Homo sapiens: one gene and its partner. The protein of the gene in region 1 purifies or fractionates together with the protein of each later gene. This does not show direct contact. Each region holds a gene or a part of one and is shown in the gene's direction. Other genes may lie near its edges.

Region 1 (4,581 bases):
AAAGCAGGCATAGCTGGAAGGCAGAATACAGAACCCCCCTAATCAAGGATCTCATTTTTATATTGAATCCTAGGCCCCCCAAAAGAGGGAAATGTCATGGGACGAGATGTGTGGCATTTTTATCGAGTGCCCCACTGTAAAGATGCTCCCCCAAGGCTGGCAGGCAGCCCAGTGCCGATTAGCCCACTCTGTGCTTAGTCTTTTTTTTTTTTTTTTTTTTGAGGTGGAGTCTTGCTCTGTTGCCCAGGCTGGAGTGCAATGGCGTGATCTCGGCTCAATGCAATCTCTGTCTCGTGGGTTCAAGCGATTCTCCTGCCTCAGCCTCCCAAGTAGCTGAGATTACAGGCACCAGCCACTATGCTCAGCTAATTTTTTGTATTTTTAGTAGAGATGGGGTTTCAACATGTTGGCCAGGCTGGTCTCGAACTTCTGACCCCAAGTGATCCGCCCGCCTCGGCCTCCCAAAGTGCTGGGATTACAGGCGTGAGCCACCATGCCTGGCGTGCTTAGCCTATTTTTAATGGGAGTTTCATCCTCAATGGTGAGTGCTTTCATTGTCTTTAGGTGCCCCAGACCATGTTTTTAAAAATTTAAATGCACGAAGAAATAAGTAGCCCTGTATAGTAGTAATACTTTGTTGTGAATAACTGTCATAAGTCATCTCTAAAACTGTATTTTTTATCTAGTTATTATATATGACTAGCTATATGTCTAGTTTTTTAAATAATACAAAGTAATTTATTTTTGGCATCCTCAAAAACCAAAGAGATTAGGTAATGTAGTGTAGAAGAGAGCAGAGCTTTAGACCTGAGAAGAATCTGCCCATGACTCGTGAAACTCCACAACGAAAGTAGGAGACCCCAAAAAAGGGGTGAGTGTCATCTTTTCTGAATTTTTTTTTTTTTTTAGATGGAGTCTTGCTCTGCCACCAGGCTGGAGTGCAGTGGTGCAATCTCGGCTCAGCCTCCCGAGTAGCTAGGATTACAGGCACGCGCCACCATGACCAGCTAATTTTTGTATTTTTAGTAGAGACAGCGTTTCACCATGTTGGCCAGGATGGTCTCGATCTCTTGACCTCGTGATCCGCCCGCCTCGGCCTCCCAAAGTGCTGGGATTACAAGCGTGAGCCACTGCACTCGGCCGGTCAGATAATTTTTTTGGCCAGTTTTTACATAGAGTAATTTTAGGTTTTATGGCTGGCTTTGGGGCAAAGGGGTTCTGGTTTTTATAGCTGGTCTTGGGGGAGAATGGAACCGAGTGACAAGAGGACAAGAGAGGGTCAGAGAAAAACTTCTGCTTCTGAGGCGGCTATTGAGGCCTTCATTTTGGAGTATTGTCCTCTAAGCCCCAGCAGTGTCAAACTGTACACAAACCATACACAGCAGCCAGCTCGGGTGCTGTTAGGAAATGGTCTCACTGCTGGGTCTGTGGGGTATGTGTGTGTCTGGGTGTGTGGCTACTGTCTGCATCCTCCTCCCCCCTACAGCCTCCCCGCCTCCCCTCCAGCCACCCTGGGATTGGTGACTCTCAGCCCCTCCCCTCAGCTCCCCTAGACCCTCCCAGAGCCTTTATCAGGGAGCTGGGACTGAGTGACTGCAGCCTTCCTAGATCCCCTCCACTCGGTTTCTCTCTTTGCAGGAGCACCGGCAGCACCAGTGTGTGAGGGGAGCAGGCAGCGGTCCTAGCCAGTTCCTTGATCCTGCCAGACCACCCAGCCCCCGGCACAGAGCTGCTCCACAGGTAGGCAAGTGGGAGAATGCTGGATGGACCAGAGCTGGCACCAGGGGACAGGAGCCAGCGTCAGGAGGGAATAAAGCAGATGGCAGCCTCTGATAGGGGAGCAGGGGACTGGGAAGGTGAGCACAAAGCACCTGTAGGGCCGAGAGCTGGTTGGTGTTTGGAGCCTGTGGCTACAGACTCATTCTTTCATACCAGAAAGTTTTTGCCTAAGTCTTGGGATTATCTAGTACTGGAAAATAGCATCCAGGATCCCTCCTCCAGCTGACTGAGGAAACAGACCAGTCCATGTCCTACAAATCTATCATCTTTCTTGGGAGCTAGAGTCCTCCTGGCACCACTATAGCATTGCACATCTCCTGGGGAGATATCTGATGGGGTAGCAGGGAAACTAAGCCCAAGGGCTGTACCCCCTTCTCAGAAATACTTTCCACCCTCTCTCCAGACCAGGGCTTGGACAGTGGAGTTGGGGGCTGGGGAAGCAGGGTCAAGCCAAGCTGCTGGTAATGAATGTCTCTTGTGTCTTCACCCATGCTGTATCTTCCTCTTCTCTCCTTTACCTGAGTCCTGTCCCTTTGCTCTCCCAGGCACCATGAGGATCATGCTGCTATTCACAGCCATCCTGGCCTTCAGCCTAGCTCAGAGCTTTGGGGCTGTCTGTAAGGAGCCACAGGAGGAGGTGGTTCCTGGCGGGGGCCGCAGCAAGGTAAGTCTCCCCTGGCAGAGTACTGGGGACATCACGGGAACTTGGGACTCTGCCTGTCTGGACAGCTGTAGTGAGGAAACTGGGGTGGGGGGGTTGTCCGTCAGAGGGCATTTTGCCTCCCTTTGGATTTCTTTGTTTCTCTGGTCCTTTCATGTTCCCACTGTCTCCAGGTGTGTTTGTGTCTCTGTATCTCTGCATGTCTTTGACACCTTGTACATAAAAGGTGCCCTACAAATATGTTGTTTGGTGGGTTGATTGATGGGAGACTTGGTGATTGGATGGTACTGTGAGGGGTGAGCTAGGGTGGTCTAAGGCTCTCTATAGTCTACCTCAGGTCCCTTTGCAAGGGACAGATCTCTTCTATTTCCTGGATGGTATGAAACAGTCAGAATTTCTTTCCCAAATGGTTATTTGTGTGCTATTTTACCTATCAGTTATGTGTATTGTTTTATTTTCAAAATGCAAATAAATTCCCTTATCTTTTGCTCATCCACCCCCAGTAACCTCAGGTGCTTCTAAGATCCCAACCCCTTCCTTCTTCTCTTTTCTCCCTTGCCCGCCTCTATCCTCTGCTTAGTCAGGATAGGAAAACAACAACAGCAAAAAAACCAGATTGAGCCTCGATTTCCACAGTTCCTTTACGAAAAAGAATAGGAATTGTCAGGGTAGGGGTACAGGGGGAGGATAGGGAGGAAGTCTTTTCAAGGTTTTGAAATGACAGCAATTACATCGGTACAAATGCTTTTAAGATGATTGCGGGTGGGACTTATTACAAATTCAATGTGTGAAGTTTAACTGCCTCTTCAGCTCAAATCTGTTCAGCATCTCATTATAGGAGGTGGGCAGAGTATTCAACAATTTGGGAAAAGTGGCTGCCTGAACACCACATGCTGGGCCAAGGGAGTTATCACCAGGGCAGCCTTGCAGGTGGCAGCAGTTGTGCCATATCCAAAAGGCCAGAACCGTTAAAAAAAAAAACACCCAGGGGAGTGCCAAGTATGGGCTGGACACCGTTTGGAGCCACAAAGTTCCAGCCCAGGATAGTTAGAGTATCTGAGTTCTTCTGAGACAAACTTGTTTCAAGACCTTGGCCAATGAGATGTCCCCTCTGCCCCTCTTGGTCAATGAATGAGAGGGATTGCCATCCTACCCCTTCTCCTTGAGAGTCTGTGAGGATGAGGGAAATTGGGGCAGGAAGAGGGTAGTACATAGGTGTGCCTAGGCAACTGGGTTGGTATGTGTGGGGGTGTGTTCTGTGTAAATGCACTTCTGTGTGTGCACAACAGCCGAAGGATGCCTGGGTTCTGGAAAGAGAGGCGCTGCTGAGACTTGAGATTTGAGATGAAAATCTCCAGCCATGATCATTGTTATTGTCTCTCTGCAGCTGCAATTAACTGGCTGTGTGGTGTGTGCCCACCACCCTGCTGTACGCAAGTTGCTAAAAAAAAAAAAAAAATCACAGGGACAATCAAGAGCCCGTGCTGGGCAACAGCTCTAGAACTTGGGATTCAGTTGTGGAGAGAAGAAGACGTGCCTTCTGAGCATGTTGCCTTCCTGGAATTCTAGACCTAGGGCCAAAAGGGAGAGGGAGAGAAAACTAGAGGCGGAAAGCCATGGAGAATAGAGAAAGAGGTGGTGGAAAACAGGGAGAGAAACATCCATGGACATCGTGCAGAGTGGGGGAATCACAGGTGCAGATGTGTGCCTCCAATCTCACCATGCATGTGAATCACCTGGGGGGCTGCTTAAAATGCAGATTCTGTCTCAGGAGGTCTGGGGTAGGAACAAGAGTCTGCATTTCTAACAGGCTCTGTGTAGTGCTGGTGTTGCTGTTGGTCCACAGGTCACTCCTGGAGCACCTACTTCTCGTCCAGTGTGAACCAGAGGAAACTCTGAAAGAAATAGGGTGTCGGATTCAGGATGGGCTCAGGAAGAGGCTGTTTCTTGTGGGAAAAGGATGAGTGGATCCGGGTGGGAGCCTCCTGCCTCACCCCTCTTTGTTTCTTCCCTAGAGGGATCCAGATCTCTACCAGCTGCTCCAGAGACTCTTCAAAAGCCACTCATCTCTGGAGGGATTGCTCAAAGCCCTGAGCCAGGCTAGCACAGGTAGGAGGCGGCCCTAGGGGAGAGGGGAATGA
Region 2 (3,810 bases), on another chromosome or scaffold:
TTGAAGTGTTCATAGATGAAATGATGTGCCATCTGAGCTTGGCTTCTTTTTTTTTTGAGATGGAGTCTCGCTCTGTCGCCCAGGCTGGAGTGCAGTGGCGTGATCTCGGCTCACTGCAAGCTCCGCCTCCCGGGTTCACACCATTCTCCTGCCTCAGCCTCCTGAGTAGCTGGGACTACAGGCACCCGCCACCATGCCTGGCTAATTTTCGTATTTTTAGTAGAGACGGAGTTTCACCGTGTTAGCCAGGATGGTCTCGATCTCTTGACCTCGTGATCTGCCCGCCTCGGCCTCCCAAAGTGTTGGGATTACAGGCGTGAGCCACCGTGCCTGGCCTTGAACTTGGCTTCTTAACAACTAAGGTGGAAAGCATGAGAGTACAGACAAATTAAGATTGGCTGAGTATTCATAATGGTGTAGCTCAGTGATGGTTTCATGGACATCTCATATTATTCCCTCTATTTTCTGTGTGTTTGAAATTTTTCGTAATAAAAGAAGGTTAAACTACTCCAATACTTTCCAAACAGTTAATACCAGTTATCCACTTGGAGCCTTCATGTATCAAAGTTAAATATTCTCTGTTCCTCTAAGTGATTGGAATGATTTCTATGTCCAAATATCAAGGTGGCCAACCCAGAGTATGTTCCAGGTGGTCAATGTCCCTCTTAAGTTGCCAAGAACACAGCAAAGTACTGTGCATAAAGTCTGGCTATTTTTTTTTTATGAAGACATTAGGTTGAATTACTTCTCATCCACTTTTGTCTTTCATACACCAAGGTAATCAGTGATCATTGTGGATAAATAGTAAAGGGTTCAACCACCATGTACTTTGGCTGCCGAAAGTGGCAGTCATGTGAACTCTAACCAAATAGGCAGAAAAAGGCATTGTGTCACTTTAATTGGTATCCTTTGAATTGGCTTTAAAATGTATCACTTTTTTTGTCTGCCTTTTCTAAAAAGCAAAGGGAGAAGGAAAGGCTTTTCTGTACTGGTATTATATGACCCCATGTCTAGAAATGACATTGAAAACTATTTTAATAAATTCCTATTTTTAAACCACACAATCAGAATTTACTCAAAAGATCTCTTATTTCTGTTTTCCTTCTTTTTTTTTTTTCTTTTTTACTTTAAGTTCTGGGATACGTGTGCAGAATGTATAGGTTTGTTACATAGGTACACATGTGCCATGGTGGTTTGCTGCACCTATCATCCCATCATCTAGGTTTTAAGCCCCACATGCGTTAGCTGTTTGTCCTAATGCTCTCCCTCCCCTTGCCCCCTACCGCCCGACAGGACACGGTGTGTAATATTCCCCTCCCTGTGTCCATGTGTTCTCATTGTTCAACTCCCACTTATGAGTGAGAACATACAGTGTTTGATTTTCTGTTCCTGTGTTAGTTTGCTGAGGAAGATGGCTTACAGCTTCAACCATGTCCCTGCAAAGGACATGATCTTATTCCTTTTTATGGCTGCATACTATTCCGTCCTTCATTCTGTTCTTTCTTTACTATCTCATTACATAGAAGATTTGAAGTACAAAGGACAGAATCGTGAAACATGCATTTACTTTTATCTCCCTCTGCTCTGAGCTGAATCTATAAGACCAGAGAAGATACCTGCTTAATTATCACAACTTAAAATGAGCTGTGTAGACCTATGTACTAGCCAAAATATCCCTTTTACCTTTTTATCAAGATCTTGAATATTCTATGGGAGATGATTTCCTTTGTCCTAAAGACCCCTTGGCCTTTGAGACTTAGTTCTGATTCGATAGAAGCATGATGGCCTTGACCAGCAGTGTGACCTTGGCAAGAGTCACCTGTCTCCTGGGGTCTGATGTCTCTCATCTAAAGGGGCAAACCCACAAGTGTGCCTCAACACACGTGCTGTTGGCATTTGGGGCAGGAAAATTCTTCAGTGGAGCTGTCCCTCATATTGCAGGATGACTAACATTCGTGGTGTCCTCCCACAAATGCCAGCAGCACTTCCAAGTCATCTCAACAACCCAAACTTCACACATTTCCAAATTGCTCCTTGGGAAAGACACTGCCCATTTGAGTACTGGAAGTTCCCATGTACTTCCAAAATTCTGGATTCTACCACTCTGACCAACCATTACTTGGTAAGGATTAGGTGCTAGCCAGCTAAAGGTAAGGTGTATAGAGATGAGATGCAAATAGAAGACAGAGGTCCCCAAGGGAGATGGTTTCCAGATAAACACCACCTTGGCAGGGGACCCACCAGCACCTTCCCCCTTTTTCTTTATTCTTTTCCACCCTTGCAGAGGAGCATAATATTCTGTCTTCATCAGCTCCGGCTGCTATGACTAAGTACCATAAAATGGGTAGATTATAAACAACAGAAATTTAAAATTCATAGTTCTGAAGGCCGGGAAGTCCGAGATCAAGATGCCCAAGGATTTCGTGTCTGGTGAGGGCCCATTTCCTGGTTCAGTCAAGATGGAAAGAGATGAGAGAGCTCTTCGAAGTCTGTTTTTTATGACAGCACTAAATGCTATTCATGAGGAGAGAGCCCTCTCCAAGGCCCCACCTCGTAATGTCATCGTCCTAGGAAGTAAGGTTCAACATGCACATTTGCGGGGAACATAAACATTCGGTCCATTGCATACCCCACAGCGATGCCAAATTCTTAGCTCACAGAATGACCTGATGAACCAGTAATGAGATAATTCGGAATTTATCAGTCACCTCCCCTAATCACATTTGTCATTCAAAGGGGATACCCAAAGAGAACCATCCTTAATCTAAAGGATGAAATTCAAAGATGAGGAAAAATCTATAAACAAACAACAGTACATGAGGGAAAGGTTTTAGGATGGGAGCCTACCAAACCCCTCTCAAGCCACACTATCCAATCAATAAAGGAAGTCCTGTCCATAAACTATTTGAATGCCTCCCTTCTTATTTCTTATAGACACAAAATGATCATTGCCCTCATTCATTAAATTAGCCTTGTTGGGTTGTTTGCTCGCTCTTGTTTGTTTTGCTAAGATTACTATTCTGGGCCAGGCGCGGTGGCTCACACCTGTAATCCCAGCACTTTGGGAGGCCAAGCCAGGTGGATCATGAGGTCAGGAGATCGAGACCATCCTGGCCAACATGGCGAAACCCAATCTCTACTAAAAATACAAAAAATTAGCCTGGCCTGGTGGCAGACGCCTATAATCCCAGCTACTCAGGGGGCTGAAGCAGGAGAATTGCTTGAACCCAGGAGGTGGAGGTTGCACTGAACTGAGATTGCACCATTGCACTCCAGCCTGGGTGACAGAGCAAGACTCCATCTCGAGGGGAAAAAAAAAAAAGATTACTATTCTGACCAACTGGTTACCTTCTGTCATTTTCTAGGACTGTGGACGGCAAGACATTTAGGAGCTCTATTAAGGAGAAAACTGTGGGCCGAGCTCTTTATGCACAGGCCAGAGCAAAAGGCAAGACGGCTGGCTTGGTGAGGTAAGGCCTGAGTGAGCAAGGCTTGCCCTTGCCTCTCAATGACGGTTTCCTCTCCTACTTCCTTCCCACAGCAGCAAAGCAGCCTCTGGAAAGGCACAGCACCTGAGCCAATGGCAACCTCCTCAGAGCCAGATGTTAGAATTAGGCACTGCAGTTTCTATTCGCCTAAAGGTCCCTCTTCAACCAATGGGTTTTGGGTGATCCCACGCTGGTTGTGCTTACATCACTGTCTTGCAGGTAGATGGATGTTCTGTAAATAAACACTGCTTTTTCTAAAGAGTGAAGAGAGAAACTACAGAAATATTGGTGATCTTGTGATCTTGTTACGAAACTTAACATA

What was found.
Region 2: the proteins of TAC3 (region 1) and ITIH2 purify together in Homo sapiens (affinity purification with mass spectrometry; one large-scale study listed by BioGRID and IntAct). This does not show direct contact.

The regions. Positions count from the first base shown.
Region 1 is NC_000012.12:57,013,546-57,018,126, reverse strand, and holds the start of TAC3 (tachykinin-3 isoform 1 preproprotein), read left to right. Parts: upstream 1-1,597; 5' UTR 1,598-1,740; intron 1,741-2,324; 5' UTR 2,325-2,329; coding exon 2,330-2,443; intron 2,444-4,455; coding exon 4,456-4,549; intron 4,550-4,581. UniProt on the Homo sapiens protein: Tachykinins are active peptides which excite neurons, evoke behavioral responses, are potent vasodilators and secretagogues, and contract (directly or indirectly) many smooth muscles. Is a critical central regulator of gonadal function.
Region 2 is NC_000010.11:7,709,816-7,713,625, forward strand, and holds part of ITIH2 (inter-alpha-trypsin inhibitor heavy chain H2 precursor), read left to right. Parts: intron 1-3,365; coding exon 3,366-3,470; intron 3,471-3,810. UniProt on the Homo sapiens protein: May act as a carrier of hyaluronan in serum or as a binding protein between hyaluronan and other matrix protein, including those on cell surfaces in tissues to regulate the localization, synthesis and degradation of hyaluronan which are essential to cells undergoing biological processes.